Linked DNA regions of Homo sapiens. The protein of the gene in region 5 purifies or fractionates together with the protein of the main gene of each other region. This does not show direct contact. Each region holds a gene or a part of one and is shown on either strand. Other genes may lie near its edges. The genes, in order: SUPT16H, TOP3A, RAD52, HMCES, RPA2, PARP2 and LIG3.

Region 1 (3,500 bases), on a different chromosome or scaffold from region 5:
TGTATTATTAGAATATCGCAGGTGGTAGTGGTGGTTCCTGGAAATGGGCTGCATGTTTCTTTGTCCTCTTATGCCTACTAGATCCTTCTTCAGGGATTGCCAGCCTTTTCATGATTACGATTATTTTTAACCAAGTAATATGATTAGTGCTGGTCATTGGGAGAAACAAAAGAGGTTATCTACCATCCCAGGGTTCCAGCTGCCTTGAGGGCTGAGTGGTACAATATCCAGGCATATCTGTATATCATTTGAGACCTACCTGTTGGGACATTCTGATATGAGTGGACCTTGACTTCATCTGCCTTTTTTCTTGAAGAATTCCATAAAATGTCAAAAATATTTGTTTTCAGAAGGAATACTCACATTCTTGTGAGCATACACCAACTGTCAGGATTGGGGTAGTGGAAGACTGACCCCAAAGAAATTTTATGCCTTTGAAGAAACTAATGAATTAAAGTGTCAGTGCTTCTCTTGAGTGGAGCTTTCTGGCTCTTTGCAGATTTTTATGGTGGCTTAGTTTCTTGTTCTGGGTTGTTCTATTAAGATTCAACAGCTATGTTCTGTGGCTCAGGAAGGATTTTAAAAAATACATAGTAGCTTATGCCTGTATAATCCCAGCTACTCCAGAGGCTGAGGTGGAAGGATTGCTTGAGTCCAGGAGTTCAAGACCAGCCTGGGCAACATAGTGAGAGAGAGCCCATTTCTTTAAAAAAAAAAAAAAAATTCAGTCTTCCATCAGTATCTGTCAGGGATTGCTTCCAGGACATACCTAGATACCTAAATCAAAGGATGCTCAAGTCTCTGATAACAAAATGGCATATTTGCATAGCCTATGTATATCCTCCCATTATTTTTTATTTCTAGATTACTTATAATACCGAATATAGTGTAAGTGCATGTAAATAATAGTTATACTTATTTTTTAGGGGGTAATGACATAGAAAAATGTTTGGCCATTTTAATTTTCAGTACACAGTTGAATCCACAGATAAGGAGAGCCAGCTGTATAGGCATTTCCTGTTATTTCAGTCAGGCAGTGGATTACTTCCACTCACACTCAGCTCTTAATAGCTCCTTTATCTCTGGAGTGGGATAGAGAAAGGTTTTTTTGTTTGTTTGTTTGTTTGTTTGTTTGTTTTTTGAGTTTCACTCTGTGGCTGAGGCTGGATTGCAATGGCACAATCACTGCTCACTGCAGCCTCAACCAAACCAGCCTCAGGTGATCTTCCCACCTCAGCCTCCTGAGTAGCTAGGACCACAGGTGCATGCCACAACACTTGACCAATTTTTATTATTATTATTATTGTTATTTATTTTATTGTATTTTTTGTGGAGACAGGGTTCCACCGTGTTGTCCCAGGCTGGTCTCAAACTCATGGGCTCAAGCGATCCGCCCACCTCGGCATCCCAAAGTGCTGAGATTGCAGGTGTAAGTCACTGCACCTGGCCAAGAAACTTTTTAATAATGCTGAGTAAGGAGGGTTAGATGGAAATAAATGCCCAGATGGATTGAGATTTTTTTTTAAATATTGCTTACTCAGCTTTTATAGTCTAGTTCTCTACTTTTTTTTTTTTTTTCTTTTTTTGAGACAGTCTGACTGTGCCACCCAGGCTGGAATGCAGTGAAGCATTCTCAGCTCACTGCAACCTCTGCCTCCCGGGATCAAGCAATTCTCGTGTCTCAGCCTCCTGAGTAGTTGAGATTACAGGTGTGTGCCACCATGCTCGGCTAATTGTTGTATTTTTCGTAGAGATGGGGTTTCACCATATTGGCCAGGCTGGTCTCTAACTCCTGGCCTCAAGCAATCCACCCACCCCAGCCTCCCAAAGTGCTGGGATTACAGATATGAGCCATCACACCCAGCCCTAGATCTCTACTTTTTATATTTACTTTTTATCCCTATTAACAACTACAGTGCCTGGCATATAGAAGTCACTCAGTGAACAGTGGTAACTGATTATATGGGTATTTAGCTACAACCAGACTGCAAAAATACTTTCTTTTTTTAAGGCAGTATCAGTTTGGTTCAAAGGAAGATAGTTGTTCTGCTGCTGCACTATTTCTCCAACTTTTATCATCCAGATACCACCTTCACAATTTTTGCAGATTCTTTGCCACCTGTTTTATATTTTATTTAACTCTCACTTTCAAAATTATTTTAATCAGTAATAGATATAGTTTTTTAAAAGTCATAGTTCTAATAAAAGCCTTAAAACAAAAAGTCACCTATCCCAGAGGCAACCACTTTGAGTTTTTTGTTTCTTTCATATTTCTAAATAATATCTATATATACTGCTATTTCTTGATTTGTGAATTTTTAACGGTTATTAACTTATGGTAAATCTGAATTTAACTTCTTTGTGTCATCACACTCATTCCAACTTCCCTACCTCCTGATACCTTAACATTTTTCTCCTGACACATTGATATGAAAAATTTTAAAGACAGAAAAGTTGAAAGAATTTTAAGTAAACCCTTTATACCCACCACCCCACACAGTTAACATTTTGTTGTACTTGCTTTATCACACATCCATCCTTCTTCATAACTTTTCCCCACAATTTTTAGTAAAATAAGTAGTTACTATTTACATTGTTTATGTTCATATAGATGTTTTCACTGCTGGGTGAAGTAATAAAGTATGATTAACTTTCCTTTTTTTCTACAGTTTTTTATTTTTCCTGGCATTAATGATTTCCTCAGTTTTTCTCCTTTAAAAAAAGTCTCCCTAGCCTTAATTTTTTCCAATAAATCTATTATAATGTTACCAGTCTTTTATTCTAAATTTCTCACACTCATAGAATTTTCTTCTGTTTCTTAAGAGCAACCTCACTCCCCACTTCCACCCCCCACATTATCCTGTTACCAGTCTTTTATTCTAAATTTCTCACACTCAGAATTTTATTCTGTTGCTTAAAAGCAACCTCACTCCCCACTTCCACCCCCCACATTATCCTGCTCCATCTGTATAGGTTACTCTTTAGGCCTGTTGAACCTCGGGACTTTGCAATATTGGGTCCCCTATATCCAAGAGCCTCTGCTTTGTTTTTTCTTTAGCACATTTTCTCTAAGAACTTCGTAAGAAAAGATGGGCCAGGCGCAGTGGTTCATTCACGCCTGTAATATCAGCATTTTGGGAGGCCGAGGTGGGCAGATCACTTAAGGCCAGGAGCTCAAGACTACCCTGGCCGACATGGCGAAACCCCATCTCTACTAAAAATACAGAAATTAACCAGGCATGGTGCCACATTCCTGTAATGCCAGCTACTTAGGAGGCTGAGGCACGAGAATCGCTTGAACCCAGGAGGCAGAGGCCACAGTGAGCTGAGATCGTGCCATTGCACTCCAACCTGGGCAACAGAGTGAGACTGTGTCTCAAAAAAAGAATAAATAAAAAGCTCACCACTAGCTCCACTGTAACCCCATGCAAAAAAAAAAAAAAGGATGCATAGAATATAAATGTCTTCAGCCCTTGCATGTCTTAAAGTGCTAGTTTGCC
Region 2 (3,500 bases), on a different chromosome or scaffold from region 5:
TGTTTGATTTGTTTTTGTTGTTGTTGAAGAAGTCTCACTCTGTTGCCCAAGCTGGACTGCAGTGGGGCAATCTCGGCTCATTGCAACCTCCACCTTCCGGGTTCAAGCAGTTCTCCTGCCTCAGCCTCCCAGGTAGCTGGGACTACAGGTACGCACCACCATGCCTGGCTAATTTTTGTATTTTTTTTTTTTTTTTTTAGCAGAGAAAGGGGTTTCACTGTGTTGGCCAGGCTGGTCTTGAACTCCTGACCTTGTGATCTACCCGCCTCGGCCTCCCAAAGTGCTGGGATTACAGGCGTGAGCCACCGTGCCTGACCCTTGTTTGGGGATTTTATGGAGGATTTATTACTTAGGCATGATTGACAAATCACTGGCCACGTGTGATCAACTCAACCTCCAGCCCCTCTGCTCTTCCTGAGGTAGGGGTGGGACTCAAAGTCCCAACCTTCTAATCACAGGGTTGGTTCCCTGACAACCAGACCGATCCCAAGGCTACCCAGGAGCCCTTGGCCACTAGTCATCTCATTTGTATACAACAGACACAGCACTTAAAAAATTCCAAGGGTATCAGAAAATGAAGTCCAAATATATATATCTTATTATAAATCATAATATCACAGGTAGAAAACACATCATTTCTAACAAAATACACACATGCTGCTTGCTAAATATCCACCTCTAAATGCTCCAGAAAACAAATGGATCACACTCCAGCACTTGGGTTTACTGATTTAAAAGACTTTGTTGCCTAACTCAAGATAATTAATGTGTCATGTAATTAAAGCAGAAAAAAAAAAGATAATTAAAATCAAGAGAATGGTATTTCTAAAGCCAATAGTTCAGAATAACTGAAGGAGACTGTTCCGATTACTGTTTCTATACTGACAAAGCTCTATGGAGAGTTGTAAAAGAACCCAGAGAAGAAAGTCCAAAGAAAAGGGGTATGTGGAAAACCTCCAGGCCAGGAGGCCACTGGTGAGGATGAATCTGGCAGGGTTATAAACTCTGACTGGCCCAGATGCGGTGGCTCACGCCTGTAATCCCCACACTTTGGGAGGCTGAGGTGGGAAGATCTCTTGAGGCCAGGAGTTCAAGACCAGCCTGGGCAACATAGTGAGACCCCTCTGTATTTCTTTTAAGGACTTACTTCTTTGCTTTAGCCACCGCTTCAATGAAAACCTGCTTGTATTTCTGCACTTGCTGCCTTAGAACCACAAATTTGTCCTTTTTGCCATCACAGATCAGCTTCAGATCAGCTTCCAGTTCAGCCCGGAGGTCAGGCTTAGACATTTCATAGCCCATGGAATCATAACCTGCAGGGAGAGAGTCGAGCTCAGTGAGGGCCCACCTGAGACCCTCAGGGACTTGGGCGACACCACCCACTACCCACTGCAAGCTCTGTCCTCCCTTACCTTCCACAAGTCCCATGCCCAGGTGCCCAGGGAGGAACCGCTTGTCTGGGGTGAGGCCCACGTACATCCGGGCTTTGATGGTCTCGATGTGCTCCGCATGAGTGGCATCCGTACCTGGAAGCCACTTGCTGGTTACTCTGAGGTAATACAGACAACAGCTCCACCCGGGTGGCGCATGGGCACCTTGCTCACCCCGGAATCCCTCCTTTGCCTGGACAGCCTATGCAGGTAAGATGCCTTCATTTCATTCCCATATAGCTCATTCAAGAAATCACAATGGCAACCTCAACTCTCTTGTTCCCTCACATCCCATTACTCAGGAAAGCTGTCAATTCCAGCTTCAAAGCTCTTTTTAAAAATTCTCTTCCCCATGTGTCCAAGCCATACTTGCAGCTTGTGTCCCTATTTCTAGTCTCTTCCTCTACCCTAACCATTCTTTAAGCTGTGGCCAAAGGGACCTTTCAAAATGTAGCTCTGCCATGAAGGAAATGCAAATTAAAACTGCAGTGAAGGCTGGGAGCAGTGGCTTATGCCTGTAATCCCAGCATTTTGGGAGGCCAAGGTGGGCAGATCATCTGAGGTCAGGAGTTCGAGACCAGCCTGGCCAACATGCTGAAACCCTGTCTCTATCAAAAATACAAAAATTAGCAGGGTGTGGCGGCACGCACCTGTAGTCCCAGCTGCTCAGGAGGCTGAGGCAGGAGAATCACTTGAACCCAGGAGACAGAGGCTGCAACGAGCTGAGATGGCACCGTTGCACTCCAGCCTGGGTGATGGAGTGAGACTCTCTTTAAAAAAAAAAAGAAAAAAAAAAGGGCTGGGCGTGGTGGCTCACGCCTGTAATCCCAGCAATTTGGGAAGCCGAAGCGGGCAGATCACGAGGTCAGGAGATCAAGACCATCCTGGCTAACACGGTGAAACCCCGTCTCTACTAAAAATACAAAAAAAAAAAAAAAAAAATTAGCCGGGTGTGGTGGCGGGCACCTGTAGTCCCAGCTACTCAGGAGGCTGACACAGAAGAATGGCATGAACCTGGGAGGCGGAGCCTGCAGTGAGCGGAGATCGAGCCACTGCATTCCAGCCTGGGCAACAGAGCGAGACTCCACCTCAACAATAACAACAAAAAAACAACCAAAAAAACCAGTGAAATAGCAGTTCAGACCTACTGGCAAAATCAAAAAGAGAGATAATACTAAGTGTTAGTAAGGATGTGGATAAACTGGAATCCTAGTGCCTTGCTGGTGGAAATGAAAAACGGTACAGCCACTTCAGAAAAGTTTGGTGGTTCCTAAAAATGTTAAATGTAGAGTTACCAAGTAAACCAGCAATCCCACTCCTAAGTCTACCCAAGAGAAATGAAAACACATATCCACACAAAACCTTGTACAAAACTGTTCACAGCAGGATTATTTATAATAGCCAAAGAGTAGAAACAACTCAAGTGTCCATCAACTGCAACCTCTGCCTTCCGGGTTCAAGTGATTCTCTTGCCTCAGCCTCCCGAGTAGCTGGGATTACAGGCGCCTGCCACCAAGCCCAGCTAATTTTTTCATTTTTAGTAGAGAAAGTGTTTCACCATGTTGGTGAAGCTGGTCTCGAACTCCTGACCTCAAGTGATTGGCCCACCTTGGCCTCCCAAAGTGCTGGGATTACAGGTGTGAGCCACTGTGCCTGGCTCTTTATAGGAAATAACTAAAGTAGGCAAATCTGGCCAGGTGCAGTGGCTCACTCCTGTAATCCCAACACTTTGGGAGGTTGAGGTAGGAGGACAGTTTGAGGGTGCAAGTTCAAGACCAGACTAGGCAACATAGCAAGACCCTGTCCCTACATAAAACAAAAAAGTCTGGCTGGGCATGGTGGCTCAGGCCTATAATCCCAGCACTTTGGGAGACCGAGGCGGGTGGATCATTTGAGGTCAGGAATTCGAGACCAGCTTAGCTAACAGTGAAACCCCATCTCTACTAAAAATACAAAAATTAGCCAGTGATGCGCACCTGTAGTCCCAGCTACTCAGGAGGCTGAGGCAGGAGAATCTCTTGAACCTGGGAGGCGGAGGTTGCAGTGAGCTGAAATCGTGCCACTACACTC
Region 3 (3,500 bases), on a different chromosome or scaffold from region 5:
GAACTCTCATACACTGTTGGCAGGAAACAGGCTGATAAAACCACTCAGCTGTTAATGCACACTACTCTTCATGAAAACCAAAGGCCGACTCCAAGGACGGAGCCACACGTCCAGGGAGTAGAGCAGCAGAGGCCCAATCCCAGGCCTGGAGCCCTACTGGTTTTTTGAGACGAAGTCTTGTTCAGTCGCCCAGGCTGGAGTGCAGTGGCACAATCTCGGCTCACTGCAACCTCCATCTTCCTGACTGAAGCAATTCTCCAGCCTCAGCCTCCCGAGTAACTGGGACTACAGGCACGTGCCATCACGCCCAGCTAATTCTAATTCTTGTATTTTTAGTAGAGATGGGGTTTCACTATATTGCTCAGGCTGGTCTCGAACTCCTGAGCTCAAGTGATCCCCCCGCCTCGGCCTCCCAAAGTGCCAGGATTACAGACGTGAGCCACCGCGCCTGGCCTATTAGTTCTTTATTTATCTTGAATATCAGTCTTTTGTCAAATAGGTCCCTGTGTTTCCCCATTCATTTTCTTAGAGTAGTCTGTGATTACATTTTGATGTAATCAATCATATTTATCTTTGTGTGTGTGGTTTTTTTTTTGGGTTTTTTTTGCTTTTTTAAGTGACTCTGGCATCCTGAGCCCTAAGAAACCTTTGCACACACTCAGGTCATGAAGATATTCTTCTCATCTTCTTCCAGAAGCCTCACGGTTTTCTAATTTTGAAAATAGGTCTGGGCGGGGCCCGCTGGGTGCAGTTGCTCACACCTGTAATCCCAGCACTTTGGGAGGCTGAGGCAGGCGGATTGCATGAGGTGAGGAGTTCAAGACCAGCCTGGCCAACATCATGAAACTCCATCTCTACAAAAAATACAAAAATTAGCTGGGCCTGGTGGAATGTTCCCGTAGTCCTAGCTACTCAGGGGGCTGAGGTGGAAGGCTTGCTTCAGCCTGGAAGGTAGAGGCTGCAGTGAGAAGAGATCACCCCACTGCACTCCAGCCTGGGTGACAGAACGAGACTGTCTCAAAAAAAAAGAAAGAAAGAAATTAAGTAGCCAGGAGTGGTGGCTCACGCCTGTAATCCCAGCACTTGAGGCTGAAGTGGAAGGATCGCTTGAGGCTCAGGAGTTCAAGACAAGCCTAGGGAACATGGCTGTCTCTACAAGCAGCAAAACGTTAGTCGGGCATGGTGGAGCATGCCGGCAGTCCCAGCTACTCAGGAAGCTGTGGTGGGAGGATCACTTGAGCGGGGGCGAGGAAGGGGTCAAGGCTGCAGTGAGCCATGATCATACCACTACACTCCAGCCTGGGCAACAGAGGAAGACCCTGTCTCAAAAAAGAAAGAAAGAAATTAAATATGTATCTGTCATATGATCCCAAAATTCTGATAGGTGTTTTCCCAGAGGAAATAAAAACATGGTAAAAAAAAAAAAAAAAAAAACTCAGGGGTAGAAGGGAGAGAGCCTGGACTAGGATAGTGGCTATGGCAAGAAATCATGAATTCAAGATATTAAAAAGGTAAAGACTGGCAAAGATGTTTTATTCTTCTCCATTTCCTTATCACCTAAAAGCATTTTTCTTTCTTTTTTTTTTTTTTTGAGGAGTCTCACACTGTTGCCCAAGCTGCAGTGCAATGGCACAATCTCGGCTCACAAAACCATTTCTTATTATATGTGGAGGGCTGAAGAAGCATGTCAGGTGGACTCTGGATATACAGATCAAGAGGGAGATGTGACAAGGTGATGGGTGAGATTCTGACTGTGAAGGTCAAGAACGGCTTGATGAACAAGACTGGAGCAAGTTTCTTTTATTTTCATTTATGAACACAGTACTATAATGTTCATGAAACTTTAAAAAAATTAGCAAAAGTAGAAAAAAAGTGGCCAGGCACGGTGGCTCACATCTGTAATCTCAGCACTTTGGAAGGCCAATGCAGACAGATCACCTGAGGTCAGGAGTTCAAGACCAGCCCGGCTAACATGATGAAACCTCTTCTCTACTAAAGATACAAAAATTAGCTGGGCATGGTGGCAGGTGCCTGTAATCTCAGCTCCTCAGGAGGCTAAGGCACAAGAATCGCTTGAATCCAGGAGGCGAAGGTTGCAGTGAGCCAAGATCGCACCACTGCACTCTAGCCTGAGCAAGAGTGAGACTCTGTCTCAAAAAAAAAAAGTAGAAAAAAAATTTTTAATTGAAATCTCAAAATGTCATTACCTCTAAAGCCTTATGCAGCTCACCACACTCTGAAGTATGTCTTTTTTTTTTTGAGGGGGAGACACTCTGTTGCCCAGGCTGGAGTACAGTGGCGCAATCTCAGCTCACTGCAACCTCCACCTCCCAGGTTCAAGTGATTCTGGTGCCTCAGCCTCCTGAGTAGCTGGAACTACAGGCATGCGCGACCACACCCAGCTAATTTTCTGTACTTTTAGTAGAGGCAGGGGTTTCACCATGTTGGCCAGGCTGGTCTCGAACTCCTGACCTCAGGTGATCTGCCCACCTCGGCCTCCCAAAATGCTGGGATTACAGGCATAAGCCACCACACCTGGCCTGAAGTAAGTCTTAAAATTTGTGGGAACCCAGTAATCCCAGCACTTTGGGAGGCCGAGGCAGGCAGATCATGAGGTCAGGAGTTCGAGACCAGCCCGGCCAACATGGTGAAACTCCGTCTCTACTAAAAATACAAAAATTAGCTGGGCACGGTGGCGGGTACCTGTAATCCCAGCTACTCGGGAGGTTGAGGCAGGAGAATCGCTTGAACCTGGGAGACGGAGGTTGCAGTGAGCCGAGATCACGCCACCGCACTCCAGCCTGGGCGACAAGAGTGAAACTCCGTCTCAAAAAAAACAAAAAAACACGGTGGGAACATAGGATTAATTCCCTCACACTGATCATTTCTCTGCACTCCCACACTCAGCCATTAGAGAACTGCGGGGCCATACACTAATCACTGAATCCCCAACACTCAGCACAGTCCCCACTCAGCACATAGTATGAAGAGCATTTTAGCCTTATTTTAGCTTCTCTCCACATCAAAACTGCCAGTTCAATATTAAAAATGAGTGCCTTGAGTGAAGAAATGCTAAAAGCTGCAGAGATGGAAAAATATCCACTAGGCTTTCTGCCCTTGAAGCACTACTGAGACAGTCAGTTCTCATTATTCAGGGTAGTTATGTCCTGTAAAGCCATCATGAACACTGAACTAGCAAATACTGAGCCACTGCTCCCAGGGGAAATACAGGGTTACTCAACAGGCCAATACATAACCTTGTTTTATGTGTGCTTCTGTTTAAAGATATCTTATTTAATATATATTGTTGATGCAGTAACATGAACTCACAGCCAACAACAAAAGTGATGCCTGAACAAAGCTAATCTAAAAGCTTATCTTTTCTCTATAAGATATATCACAGCCTTCAACTTGGAAATGCTAGACAGCACTTCTATTCTTGGAGGCCCCTATAAACAGCAAAATCACCAAAAGCACAAAAATACAAAAAAACATGGCAC
Region 4 (3,500 bases), on a different chromosome or scaffold from region 5:
GCATGCCTCAAAGGAAATACGTTCATAGGAGGAAAACTGTGCCCCAGGATTTAAGACTGCAAAAGATAAAAAATTTTACATAACCTTCCTTCCACAACTTCACAATAACTCATGAGATGCATTTCTTCCAACACTCACTTCCACAAGCAACAAGCAAACTTCAGGTCTTGTCGAGGTAAAGTGCCATATTTATTGTAGTATGTATGTATGTATGTATTTATTGAGATGGAATCTCACTCTGTCACCCAGGCTGGGGTGCAGTGGCACGATCTTGGCTCACTGCAAGCTCCACCTCCCGGGGTCACACCATTCTCTTGCCTCAGCCTCCCATGTAGCTGGGACTACAGGAGCCCGCCACCATGCCCGGCTAATTTAGTTGTTGTATTTTTAGTAGAGACGGGGTTTCACCGTGTTAGCCAGGATGGTCTCGATCTCCTGACCTCGTGATCCACCCACCTCAGCATCCCAAAGTGCTGGGATTACAGGCGTGAGCCACCGTGCTCAGCCTGTAGTATTTATTTATTTCTTAACCACCTAACATGTATAAAACAGTGCTACTGTTTTATTAGGTTTCCATTATTTTTTTAATGTGTCACTGACAACATTTTAAGTGTTGTCTCCTTAACCCCACTTTTCCCCTAAGTTATTTGGTTTTTATTCTATCGTTTTGCATAGTACAGTGATTTTTAGGAATGTATGTCATGTTAGAGTCAAACTGATTGTAACTTTACGTTGTAAAATGACTTGGTTTCCTACTCTCTAAAGCTACCTAAAAGCAGAGGACAAATCATCTTTTGGATCCTTTTGGATCCAGGGCTAAGAAGTATGACTTGCCTGTGGTGGATGTCACTCAAGCCTTTGCAGGAATCCACTGTGATGATGGTATAGGAATACAGGACATCTCCTCCCTCTGGGGGCTCCCAGCAGTCAAAGATCCCGGCCATTGTCAGCAGCCTCCAGTTGTCCCAGACTTTCTCCCAGTTCTCAGGACTATCTGCAGCACCAATGCTACCTGACTGGAAGCAAAATATATGGGCAGATTAGATGCACTCAGCAGACTTCTTCTACATGCAGGTTAGGTACTACTTCAGACTCGAGAGCACGGAAATCATTTTAAAAGTAATTCAGCCCACGTCTTATTAACCCCTCTGTCACCAAAGGAAAGAAGGTTGGTGGCAAATGCCAACTGAAGCTATAGATTCATGGCTCCTTAATACTTTCAGAATTTAACACCTTCACTGGACATTTAGGCCTTCCGTGAACTGGCCCACCATTCTAGCTATTACTTACATTGTTAATTTGAACCCAAACCAGCTGTTGGTAAATGAAGCTCTCATGCAATTTCATGCTCCTGTGTCTTGCTGAAGCAACCTTCCTCTGCCCAAAATGTCCTTCCCACCCTTTCTTAATTGAATTGAATTTCATGCCAATTCCTAATTGCCATTCAAAATTCAATTCAAGGACTAAAATGTAGAAAGCTGGAAAGAACGTCACTTCTATTCTAACAATAAGAAAAAAGCTGGATAATATGCAAAATTATAACTTTTCTTAAACTCATCAGAGAGGTAAGTCGATCAATTTCCCTGAAATTTAAGAAAAGACAAGGTCCTCCAAGGGGCAATGGGACACAAGTACTGGCTTATTGGCAGCATCAGGAGGGAGACACAAGCCTTCATACAACCAGGTTAAGAATTCAGATAATGTTATTATCACATTTCTACAAGCAGCGTACAGGCTAGCAGGATAGTACAGAATCCCTAGGAGCTGCAAACCTCAGAGGAGTTTGCACCAGCTCACAGGCTTTTCTCCTTGGACTTTGCCAGTGCTCGAAAAAGACGGCACAGGGCAGGAGCCTGGAGGAAGCCATCCTCACTGTTGAATACCTTAAAGGCAAGCTCCTCTGCCTCACCTAATCACTTTTCCCCTAAGGAGCAAAAGTCTTAAGCTGCCAGGGAAACGGTAATAATAATAATCCCTGTCACGCCTAGGAATCAGGTAAAGACCCACAGAGGCTGGGGAAGGAGAAAAAGAAAAAGCCCCCTACGCCCTGGGGAAGACTGAGTCAGAGAGCCACATCTGCTTAAGATAGACTGAACGGAGAACTGCCTCCACCCGTTTAGCCGACAAACATTAAGTGACAAGCAGAAGCAGTCTACTTCTGGAAGAGGGAAAAGGGCACAAGAAAGACCATGTCTAAGGCACAGGCTCACAGGAAAATCCAACAACTGAAGAGAGGAGGGCTGCTGAGAAACCCTCTGGAAAGTCAATCCTTACCCTAAACACTGGATAACACCAGAGCACTTGAAAGCCTGTGTCAAACAAAGGCACTGTAGCCTGGTCGTGGTGGCTCATGCCTGTCATCCCAGCACTTTGGGAGGCCGAGGCAGGCGGATCACGAGGTCAGGAGATCGAGACCATCCTGGCTAACACGGTGAAACCCCGTCTCTACTAAAAATACAAAAAATTAGCTGGGCCTGGTGACGGGCGCCTGTAGTCCCAGCTACTCGGGAGGCTGAGGCGGAGCTTGCAGTGAGCCGAGATCGCACCACTGCACTCCAGCCTGGGCAACAGAGGGAGACTCTGTCTCAAAAACAAAAACAAAAACAAAACAAAGGCACTGTAATGAGAACAAAGCCCAAACCCAGTTCAATTCCTGACAAGACTGACTTAACCCCATATATTAATGGCCTAATAGAAGAATTTCCAGACATAAATATTATTAATCTCAGTCTCTGTCCTACATATCATCTCTGGCAACAATAAAAAATTACAAGACACACAAAAAAAGCTAAAGCAATCAACCACCAAGAGATATAGAAATTAACAGAACCAGATTCAAGAGATTATATTTCCCAGATGCTGAAATTATCAGAGAACTTGAAGTAAGTAAAATTAATGTCAAAGACTCTTGTGGAAAATGTGGACAACATATATGAACAGATAAGGAACGTTAGCAGAGAGACAGAAACTATAAGAAAGACTCAGTGAACTTAAAGATAGGTCAATAATGGCCAGGCGCAGAGGCTCATGCCTGTAATCCCAATACTCTGGGAGGCCAAGGCAGGCAGATCACTTGAGGTCAGGCGTTCAAGACCCACCTGGCCAACCTTATCAAACCCCGTCTCTACTAAAAATACAAAAAAAATTAGCTGGGCATGGTGGTGCATGCCTGTAATCCCAGCTATTTGGGAGGCTGAGGCAGAATTGTTTGAACCTGGGAAGTAGGGGTTGCAGTGAGCCAAGATTGCACCACTGTACTCCAGCTTGGGTGACAGAGCGAGACTTCATCTCAAAAAAAGAAAAAAAACGGTCAGTGAAAAGTATCTAAACTGAAACAGAGAAGAAAAAAAGAAAGAAAAATGGAGAGAATATCCAAGAACGATGGTACAATTAAATCATCTAACACATGTGTCATTAGAATCCCAGAAAGAGAAAATGGGGCAGAAGAAATATTTGAAGAGGAAAAAGCCAAGAAATTTCCATAAATTATGAAAGATATC
Region 5 (3,500 bases):
AGATCACCTGAGGTCAAGAGTTCCAGACCAGCCTGGCCAACATGGTGAAACCCCATCTCTACTAAAAATGCAAAATGCTGGCACATATAGTCCCAGCTACTCAGGAGGCTGAGCCAGGAGAATCGCTTGAGCCCGGGAGACGGAGGTTGCAGTGAGCTGAGATCACGCCATTGCATGCCAGCCTGGACAACAGGAGCGAAACTCTGTCTCAAAGAAAAAAAATTTAAAAAGATGTCCAACATGGCCAAGCTCTTACTCCATTTCCCCAGGAGCTCCATTTGATAGTCAAAAAATCTGTCCTACAAGAAGCTATTCTTCTACCTTTTACAGTTCATCACAAGACCTACAAGCAATTCCAAAGTCCTGTCTCCATTAGTCATTTCTCAAACCTTTTCCCAATACCATCTCATTTTGTCAGTGACCTGAACAGCAGCACCAGCCTGTCTACACCCTAAAGCTGGGGTTTCCTCTTGAAGGTCTGTTCTGGCAGCAGCAGGTCATTCTTCCTTATCCTGTCCCCCACTCTGACCTATTCATTTTGGTGAATTCTCAGAGCAACATGTGTATCTATTCAGCAGGAGCTCTGGAGTTAGACAAACCTGGGTTTGGATTCTAAAAGTGTGGTATTGGTTTGCTATATGACCTTGGTTTCCATCTCTCTGAAGCAAGGATAATGAGATTTGTTTTGAAATTCAATGTTCTAATATATTTAAAGTACTTGGCACATGGCAGGTGTTGAATGAGTGGTAGTTATTACTTTCTTAATTGAATTTTGCATGTTTTTTCTTTTCAGAGAGCCCGAGCCCAGCACATTGTGCCCTGTACTATATCTCAGCTGCTTTCTGCCACTTTGGTTGATGAAGTGTTCAGAATTGGGAATGTTGAGATTTCACAGGTATGTCAAATAATTTGTGAAAGAATCACTTACTCATAATAAAGAATGAAATAAGACTTCATTAAAAAATACAAAAATGTAGCCTTGGTTTCAGGGGGAACCAGACCTTTTTTTTTTTTCTTTGTTTCTTCTAACCTAGGTCACTATTGTGGGGATCATCAGACATGCAGAGAAGGCTCCAACCAACATTGTTTACAAAATAGATGACATGACAGCTGCACCCATGGACGTTCGCCAGTGGGTTGACACAGATGTAAGTGGCTGTTTTTGAATCATGATGGGGTTACTTTGGAACTGTGGAGATGTTGAACTTTTTTAGTCTTTTTAAAGTTTTTTCTTATAAAAATAATACAAAAAGACATCAAAGACAGATACTCTAAAGTAAAAGGTTAGTAGATTTGACTATATACCTTCCCAATATACCAAAAACAGAATTAAAAGTCAAATGACAGGAGACAGTAGAATGTTAAGTTCCATTAGAACAAAGTTTTTTTTGAGACAGAGTCTCACTCTGTCGCCCAGGCAGTGCAGTGGTGGAATCTCGGCTCACTACAACGTCCGCATCCCGGGCTCAAGCGATCCTGTGCCTCAGCCTCCCAAGTAGCTGGGATTACAGGCACCTGCCACCACGCCCGGCTAATTTTTGTATTTTTACTAGAGATGGGGTTTCACCATCTTGGTCAGGCTGGTCTTGAACTCCTGACCTTGTGATCCACCTACCTTGGCCTCCCAAAGTGCTGGGATTATTACAGGCTTGAGCCACCACACCCAGCCCCTGCTTTTTTGTTTGTTTGTTTGTTTGGTTTTTTTTTTTGAGACAGAATCTTGTGCTGTCACCCAGGCTGGAGTGCAATGGCGCAATCTCAGCTCATTGCAGCCTCTGGGCCCCAGGTTCAAGCAGTTCTCCTGCCTCAGCCTCCCAAGTAGCTGGGATTACAGGCACCCGCCACCACACCTAATTTTTTGTATTTTTAGTAGAGATGGGGTTTTGCCATGTTGGCCAGGCTAGTCTCAAACTCCTGACCTCAGGTGATCCACCCTCCTCAGCCTCTCAAAGTGATTGGATTACAGGCATGAGCCCTCACGCCCGGCCTAGAACAAAGATTTTTATCTTGGTCACCGCTGTAGCCTTAGCACCTAGAGCAGTGCTAGTCACATAGTGGTCCTGGAATAAGTATTGTTTAAATGAATGTGGAAAATATTTGCAACATATTACAAACATTTAAATTTTTAATTAATATAAAGCTCCTTTTTGGCTTGGCATGGTGGCTCACGCCTGTAATCCCAGCACTTTGGGAGGCCGAGGTGGGCGGATCACGAGGTCAGGAGATCAAGACCATCCTGGCTAACACGGTAAAACCCTGTCTCTACTAAAAATACAAAACATTAGCCGGGTGTGGTGGCAGGCGCCTGTAGTCCCAGCTCCTCGGGAGGCTGAGGCAGGAGAATGGCATGAAGCTGGGAGGCGGAGCTTGCAGTGAGCCAAGATTGCGCCTCAAAACAAAAAAAGACAAACAGTGGTGACCTAGCAGAACTCCACAGCTTAGGAGTTTACATCAAGGAAAGAATTAAAGACAGGTACAAAGATTTAGGCCAGTGAAGTGGCTCACGCCTGTAATCGCAACACTTTAGGAAGCCAAGGCAGGCAGATCACCTGAGGTCAGGAGTTCGAATCCAGCCTGGCCAACAGGTGAAACTCCGTCTCCTAAAAATACAAAAATTAGCCGGGCGTGGTTCTGCGCACCTATAATCCCAGCTACTCAGGAGGCTGAGGCAGGAGAATTGCTTGAACCTGGGAGGCAGAGGTTGCAGTGAGCCGAGATCATGCCACTGCACTCCAGCCTGGGCGACAGAGCAAGACTCTGTCTCAAAATGAATAAATAAAAATAAAGCAATCTCAAAATACTAGCAATAAAGGATTATTAAGTAAACCATGACACATTTATAACATACTACAAATGATACAGAAAAGCGTGTATTGCCACAAAGAAGTGTTTGCCATAAATTGTTGAGAAAAGCATATTACAATGTGGTATGCAGGATTTGACCCAATTTTTACAAAGCAGCATATATATAAGTGTCTTTATAAACATGGATAAAATAGACTGAAATACAGTATATACTTTTTATCCTTTTATTTTTCAATTGTGCAGAAGGCCTCTTGGTGTTTTGTATTTTGTTTTTGAAATACATTCATTACAGAAAATTTGGATAATAAAGACTGTTTTAGGCTGGGCATGGTGACTCACGCCCGTAATCCCAGCACTTTGGGAGGCCAATGCTGGCGGGTCACCTGAAGTCAGAAGTTTGAAACCAGCCTGGCCAACGTGATGAAACTCCATCTCTACTAATGATACAAAAATGAGCTGGGTGCCTGTAATCCCAGCTACCCAGAAGCTGAGACAGAAAAATTGATTGAACCTAGGAGACAGAGGTTGCAGTGAGCCAAGATTGCGCCACTGCACTCCAGCAGATTGCGCACTGCTCTGTTGCTCTGGGCAACAGAGCAAGACTGACTCAAAAAAAAAAATGCGGTTCTCCTTCAAAAACCACAAGTTATCTATAGAGAAATAACTTGGTAGTTATGTAATTTTTAAATTTTTTC
Region 6 (2,385 bases), on a different chromosome or scaffold from region 5:
CACAAAGCCTAACCATATCAGGATCTGACCTGGACTTTAGTACTTCTTAGTTGGAGCAGGTTATGTAAAAACTCATTCCACTTTTTTCCTTTCCTCCTCAAGATGTATTCAGGCTTAGTGACAGTCCTCCAAGGGCTTCCCAAATTTTTGGACATGTGATGAGTCCTAGGATGTTGAGTAGTGGGAGACCTAGGCTGCAGTGGATAAATTTGAAAAAGGCAAGTGAATACATATGCATGGGAAAGAAAAACACGACTTAGCCTTTGTTGCCTCTACCCTTCCTGTGATAATACTCAACAAATTCCAGTTTGCAGAAAAATTGAATTAAACAGGTAAAAGCATTAGCGCCCCCATTAGTGTCCCTCAATGCACAGATGCCACTAAGAACAGGATACTGAATAACCCTCAGAGCAATGAGTAATTTCTGTCCTGGAAATGGAGATCTACTAATGTCAGAAGAAATATGTTCTTGGAGAAATAAAGCCCGAAGAAGCCAGTGGTAGACCTGTACAGTTTTTATTACATAAAATATCACAAAATTCACAAGTACAACACTGCTTATTTTCTTGCTTGAAGATCAGATCTCTGGTTTATTTAATATCAACATTCACCACAGCTGAAGGAAATTAAACTGAACCTTTAAAAGGTACCGCATACGGACCTGGTTGGGGTTATATACAATATATTCATTGTAGTTGAGGGTATAACCATCTGGATTCAGAATTCCTGTGTCACTTGCTGGTCCTAATGGCACTGTACTCCCATTCCTGCCAAATGGAAAAAAAGTGTGTCAACATCAGTCTCTGGTTCAGAAGCTGCAATAGAGAACGTAGTCTTATCTGGCCAAAAGGAGTCTTCTAGTCCTCCTGGTTCTGAGTACTTACAGGGTGACGAAGTGGGCAGAACTGGGAGCCATCTTGCCCAGCCCCTTGGTGCTATGTTTACCTTGAAGCAATCCTTCGGCCTTAGGATTGGCCTCTAGTAGTTCATTACACTGACCTAGAGCTACCTGCAAAGCAAAAAACCTTTGAATTCCCATATCCTACTAAGAATTAGATGGCTCCAAAGCCAAACAGAAAATCCCATCAGTACTTTTTTCCCCTACTCCAGCAGAGGAATCCAATGTACTAGAAATTGTACTTGGTCCTCTCTCAAGCTATCCCAGGTAAACCTCTTGGTTCTGGGGTCAAACTTTTCTCATCGGAAAAAAACTGGAATTAATAAACTAGAGATCACAGACATACTCCTGTCTCACCTCTGATAAGAGCAGCAGTCCTGTATTCTTTAGGCGAGAGGCAAAGCAGTAATTGGCACTCTTGGAAGACATGTCAGCAAAGTAGATTCCTTTCCCAAACTGAAATATATACATGAATACCAAGGTCAGCTTCTAACCCACTGTGTTAGAGAGAAGGTGCATACCACTGACCCTGTTTTTCCATTCCCTTAAACACAATATAGACCCTTCTCCATTTCCCCTCACAATTCTGTTCTAGAGAGGGTAGAAGCCCCTGTGAATTTCCGCCTTCTGAGGGAAAGGTGAGGTATCTTTAGGAATTTAAAGAAAGAGGGACACAGTAAGAGATGACAAGGTTATCAGTGAGCTGGCTTAACTCTTGGGGAGGGGAACCATCTAATCCTAATCTAGGAAAAAAAGCACTGAGAACATTACTGTATCCCTTTCCCCTGTGCTCCTCCCAGAGTTCAATTTCACTCACCATGTAACCTGTGATGGGAGCTTCAGGTGGGGCAATTCGAAGCCCATGGCTCAAGATTCCCACCCAGTTACTCATCCTGGAACCATGCCATAGAAGCATCCTAAGGAAAAGCCAATATTATTGTACTCTGTTGTTCTGCACAGATAGGCCATAAGCATAAAAAAGCCAACACCTTCCTCTGACTCCCTCTTATAAGTTCTACAGCTGTACTTTCGGGCAAGGAGTGTCTTTCCAAACGCAAAGCTAGACTCAGACCTGTTATGAAGGTCCTCTCTGAAGGCTTCTTTCTCACCATCCTTCTCCACTTCAAACAAATCCAGCAAGGTCATGGTATAGTCGCTGTGTGTGGGAGCATGGGTAGATTGTAGGTACTGGGAAATCACCTGTGAAAAATAAGACAAAAAGGCTGATGTAGACTCTACAAGAGACTGAGCTGAACTGAAGAATTTGGGGATTCTGATATAACTTGGCAGACCTTTCTGCTCCCAAACAGTCTTACAAGGCAGCTAGGAAAAGCTTGGCCTTCCCAAATCCCTAGTACATAAAAAGTCTGCCCTAATTGACAATTTGCTCTTGACAAGAAGTAGTTAGAGAACAGTGGGATGGGGGAGGTGGTTAAGGGTGCAAGAATATGAAAATAAATGATCATTTTTCTTACTTTGAACTCATA
Region 7 (3,500 bases), on a different chromosome or scaffold from region 5:
GGAAGATAATGAGAAGGAACAGATAACCCAGCACATTGCAGGTAAGGTAGAGAACACTGCTTTCTCATCTTACTGGTGCTGAGAGAAAAAGGGATAAGGAGTTCAACTGCTTTCTTTCTCTTTTTTTTAACTTTGCTCTTTTAGAGATGGGGTCTCACTCTGTTGCCTAGGCCAGTGTTTAATGTTGCATTCGTAGCTCACTGCAGCTTTGCACTGCTGGACTCAGGTCATCCTGACTCAGCCTCCCAAGTAGTTGGGATTACAGGCGCATGCCACCATGCCCAGCCTTTAACGTTTTATTTGGAAATAATTTTAAACTCACTGAAGTGTTGGAAGATTAAAAATAGTACAAAGAACATTCATATTCCTTTTACCCATATTTACCTATTAACATTTTACTCTATTTGCTTTATCATATTTGTTCATGTGCTGTCTCTCTCTACATACATACACACGTGTGCGTGCACTCACTTTAAACCATTTGAGAATAAGTTGCATACATCATGGCCCTTTAAAATTCTTCAGTGTATATACCTTAAGAATAGGATATATGACCCTTATGCGACTATAATATAGCTATCATCTTCAGAAAATTTGTCCTTGATGTAATACTTAAATCTACCATCTGTATACTATTTTGTCAATGGATTGAGTCATACCTTCAGTAGCCTTTTCCTGCAGTATAGGATCCCAGTCTAGGATCATATCAGGTGTTGCATTTAGTTGTCATGTTTCTTTGGCCTCCTTTAATCTGAAATATTTCCATAGTCTCTCTTTTATGACATTGATATTTTGGAAGAATAGAGTACTGATTACTATCCTCTTTTACTTTTTTTCTTGTAGCATATAATTCATTACTGTACTTAACTAATTTGATACTTAATTGTCCCATATTTGGCCAATTAGGAACCCCTTTACACTGTCCTCTGTGTCCTGTATACCTTCATTAACTTTTTTTAATGTACTTCTTTACTCTTGAGCATAGCAAGATGCTTTTAGTCTTATCCCGTATGTATCCTTCCCCAGCCCTGAAATTGGTAATTTCTCTGGGGATTCCTGTTAGTGGGAAATGCCCCTGTTAAAGAGTAAAACCTGGATACTATGTGTCCACATTGTCATGGGGTATCTGTTTCTTCTTTTTTTTTTTTTTGAGAGTCTCACTCTGACCCAGGCTGGAGTGTAGTGGCACTATCCTGTTAGTGGGAAATGGTATTAAAGAGTAAAACCCGGATACTATGTGAACACATTGTCATGGGGTATCTGTTTCTTCTTTTTTTTTTTTTTGAGACAGAGTCTCACTCTGTGACCCAGGCTGGAGTGCAGTGGCACTGTCTTAGCTCACTGCAACCTCTGCCTTCCAGGTTCAAGCAATTGTCCTGTCTCAGCCTCCCAAGTAGCTGGGACTACAGGCACTTGACACCACACCCAGCTAATTTTTGTGTTTTTAGTAGAGACAGGGTTTCACCATGTTGGTCCAGCTGGTGTTGAACCCCTGACTTCAAGTGATCCACCCACCTTGGCCTCCCAAAGTGCTGGGATTACAGGCCTGAGCGCCCAGCCATGGCATGTCTGTTTCTAAGCCCTTTCAGCAGACAGAGCTAGAAAATATGTGCGTGTATATGCATGTAAAATTCATACCTATATATGGCTATATATAACATGTTTGCATGTACATGCATATTTACATATGCATATTTTAGAAATTTTATGCCAATACCCCCAAATCCAGTTAGTCCTCTTTGACCTTCAGTGTCTGTAAAATAATGTTCATATCTTCAACTTAGTTCTGGTCACCATAGGAAGACAGTTAACAATGGCTCTAAAAATGGGTATCTGTCCTTGTTCTTTGAAAGGAAAAAAGACTTCCGGGAAAGAAAACTGTGCTTCCCATATACTTTATTCTCAGGCTCCCCATCCCACCTTGCACTGCCTTAGCTATTGGCCTCGGCCTTTGTTACTTCTTGACCCATCTCTCATTTGGAGGAAGAGAAATACAGGTAGAGTTCATGACTCAGATAACTAAGCATCTGGAAATTTTCCTTCCTATGCTAGGTTGACATGCTCTGTGATCCTCATTTACTTTTTGTTCATCTCTAAATTGAAGCTAATTCTGTGGGGTTGGGGGTTCCCTAAGTTTTATCCATCAAACTATGATTTCTGATTTCCCCCAAATTGTTATTTCTGGAGACTTACATATGGGATAAGAAGTGGAGAATGTTGATGAAAATTTAAGGTACTAATAGAGATAAATGGTAACTGGATCTTTTGTCTCCAGCATATCCTTCCCTTCTGTCCCCACAATACCCTATTACCTACTACCCCCACTCAAAAAATACCAGCCACCAGCCAGCCTTGGGCTAGTGCTAGGGTAGTGACTTAACAAGCAAGGCCCTAGGAGCAGTTGATAGATTCTTTGGATGTTTTTTTCAGAGATCGTTCACTGAAGGATATTTTATACTCTTTTGGGATCCTACAGATCTGTCTTCTAAGGCAGCAGGTACACCAAAGAAGAAAGCTGTTGTCCAGGCTAAGTTGACAACCACTGGCCAGGTGACTTCTCCAGTGAAAGGCGCCTCATTTGTCACCAGTACCAATCCCCGGAAATTTTCTGGCTTTTCAGGTAAGATAGGTTAGGGCTACTTTAGCTGTTATAGTGCTGCTTTTATTTTGTATTCTACCTAGGATTCTGGCTAAAGAGTGAAAATTCTGTGCTATCTCATCTCATTAATAATTTGCTTCTGTCTGAGCAGAGACTGGTAATGGCTAATTCTAAGCCTTCCGCTTGGTTTTTGTTTGTTTGTTTGTTTTTTGGTTTTGGGGGTTTTTTTGAGATGAAATCTTGCTCTGTCATCCAAGCTGGAGTGCAGTGGTGCATTCTCAGCTCACTGCAACCTCCGCCTCCTGGGTTCAAGCGATTCTCCCACCTCAGCCTCCCAAGTAGCTGGGATTACAGGCACCTGCCACCATGCCTGACTAATTTTTGTATTTTTAGTAGAGATGGGGTTTCGCCACGTTGGCCAGGCTGGTCTCAAACTCCTGACCTCAGGTGATCCACCTGCCCCAGCTTCCCAAAGTGCTGGGATTGCAGGCGTGAGCCACTGCGCTCGGCCAGCATTCCACTTGTATAGCATTTCTTTGTATACTTTAACCTCTATCGCAGCGGAAAGATTTGTTTTGTCAAGACTTTTTCCCCTTGAAATAGTTACCTGGGCCAGACAGAGATTATTAGAACCTGTCTTTTACTTCCTTGTGTTTTGATAATGAAAGAATTTTGAGAAATTGTTTCCCTGAATATGCCTAGAAATGAAAGTATGAAAGAAGGGAGATGTCATGCATGGATCTCCCTTCTTGATTCTTAAAACTGTTTATTCAAAACACTGGAACTTCATGGAACACAAAGGAAGGAAAAAAAGATCTGAAGGATATTGCTATTTGTTGGGAGGCAGTACAGCCTAGGGATGAAGCTTGCAGACTTTGGAATCAGTGAGCTCTGGGTTCAA

Evidence for each region.
Region 1: the proteins of RPA2 (region 5) and SUPT16H purify together in Homo sapiens (affinity purification with mass spectrometry; 3 studies listed by BioGRID and IntAct, with this or other methods). This does not show direct contact.
Region 2: the proteins of RPA2 (region 5) and TOP3A purify together in Homo sapiens (affinity purification with mass spectrometry; 4 studies listed by BioGRID and IntAct, with this or other methods). This does not show direct contact.
Region 3: the proteins of RPA2 (region 5) and RAD52 purify together in Homo sapiens (affinity purification with western blotting; 3 studies listed by BioGRID and IntAct, with this or other methods). This does not show direct contact.
Region 4: the proteins of RPA2 (region 5) and HMCES purify together in Homo sapiens (affinity purification with mass spectrometry; 4 studies listed by BioGRID and IntAct, with this or other methods). This does not show direct contact.
Region 6: the proteins of RPA2 (region 5) and PARP2 purify together in Homo sapiens (affinity purification with mass spectrometry; 3 studies listed by BioGRID and IntAct, with this or other methods). This does not show direct contact.
Region 7: the proteins of RPA2 (region 5) and LIG3 purify together in Homo sapiens (affinity purification with mass spectrometry; 4 studies listed by BioGRID and IntAct, with this or other methods). This does not show direct contact.

Annotation. Positions count from the first base shown.
Region 1 is NC_000014.9:21,377,520-21,381,019, reverse strand, and holds part of SUPT16H (FACT complex subunit SPT16), read left to right. Parts: intron 1-3,500. UniProt on the Homo sapiens protein: Component of the FACT complex, a general chromatin factor that acts to reorganize nucleosomes. The FACT complex is involved in multiple processes that require DNA as a template such as mRNA elongation, DNA replication and DNA repair.
Region 2 is NC_000017.11:18,283,995-18,287,494, forward strand, and holds part of TOP3A (DNA topoisomerase 3-alpha), read right to left. Parts: intron 1,527-3,500; coding exon 1,413-1,526; intron 1,314-1,412; coding exon 1,148-1,313; intron 1-1,147. UniProt on the Homo sapiens protein: Releases the supercoiling and torsional tension of DNA introduced during the DNA replication and transcription by transiently cleaving and rejoining one strand of the DNA duplex.
Region 3 is NC_000012.12:943,195-946,694, forward strand, and holds part of RAD52 (DNA repair protein RAD52 homolog), read right to left. Parts: intron 1-3,500. UniProt on the Homo sapiens protein: Involved in double-stranded break repair. Plays a central role in genetic recombination and DNA repair by promoting the annealing of complementary single-stranded DNA and by stimulation of the RAD51 recombinase.
Region 4 is NC_000003.12:129,295,870-129,299,369, reverse strand, and holds part of HMCES (abasic site processing protein HMCES), read right to left. Parts: intron 1,017-3,500; coding exon 835-1,016; intron 1-834.
Region 5 is NC_000001.11:27,904,576-27,908,075, reverse strand, and holds part of RPA2 (replication protein A 32 kDa subunit), read left to right. Parts: intron 1-793; coding exon 794-895; intron 896-1,034; coding exon 1,035-1,148; intron 1,149-3,500. UniProt on the Homo sapiens protein: As part of the heterotrimeric replication protein A complex (RPA/RP-A), binds and stabilizes single-stranded DNA intermediates that form during DNA replication or upon DNA stress.
Region 6 is NC_000014.9:20,356,020-20,358,404, reverse strand, and holds the end of PARP2 (poly [ADP-ribose] polymerase 2), read right to left. Parts: coding exon 2,374-2,385; intron 2,099-2,373; coding exon 1,971-2,098; intron 1,816-1,970; coding exon 1,716-1,815; intron 1,355-1,715; coding exon 1,256-1,354; intron 1,010-1,255; coding exon 885-1,009; intron 768-884; coding exon 608-767; 3' UTR 501-607; downstream 1-500. UniProt on the Homo sapiens protein: Poly-ADP-ribosyltransferase that mediates poly-ADP-ribosylation of proteins and plays a key role in DNA repair.
Region 7 is NC_000017.11:34,983,512-34,987,011, forward strand, and holds part of LIG3 (DNA ligase 3 isoform alpha precursor), read left to right. Parts: coding exon 1-41; intron 42-2,476; coding exon 2,477-2,620; intron 2,621-3,500. UniProt on the Homo sapiens protein: Isoform 3 functions as a heterodimer with DNA-repair protein XRCC1 in the nucleus and can correct defective DNA strand-break repair and sister chromatid exchange following treatment with ionizing radiation and alkylating agents.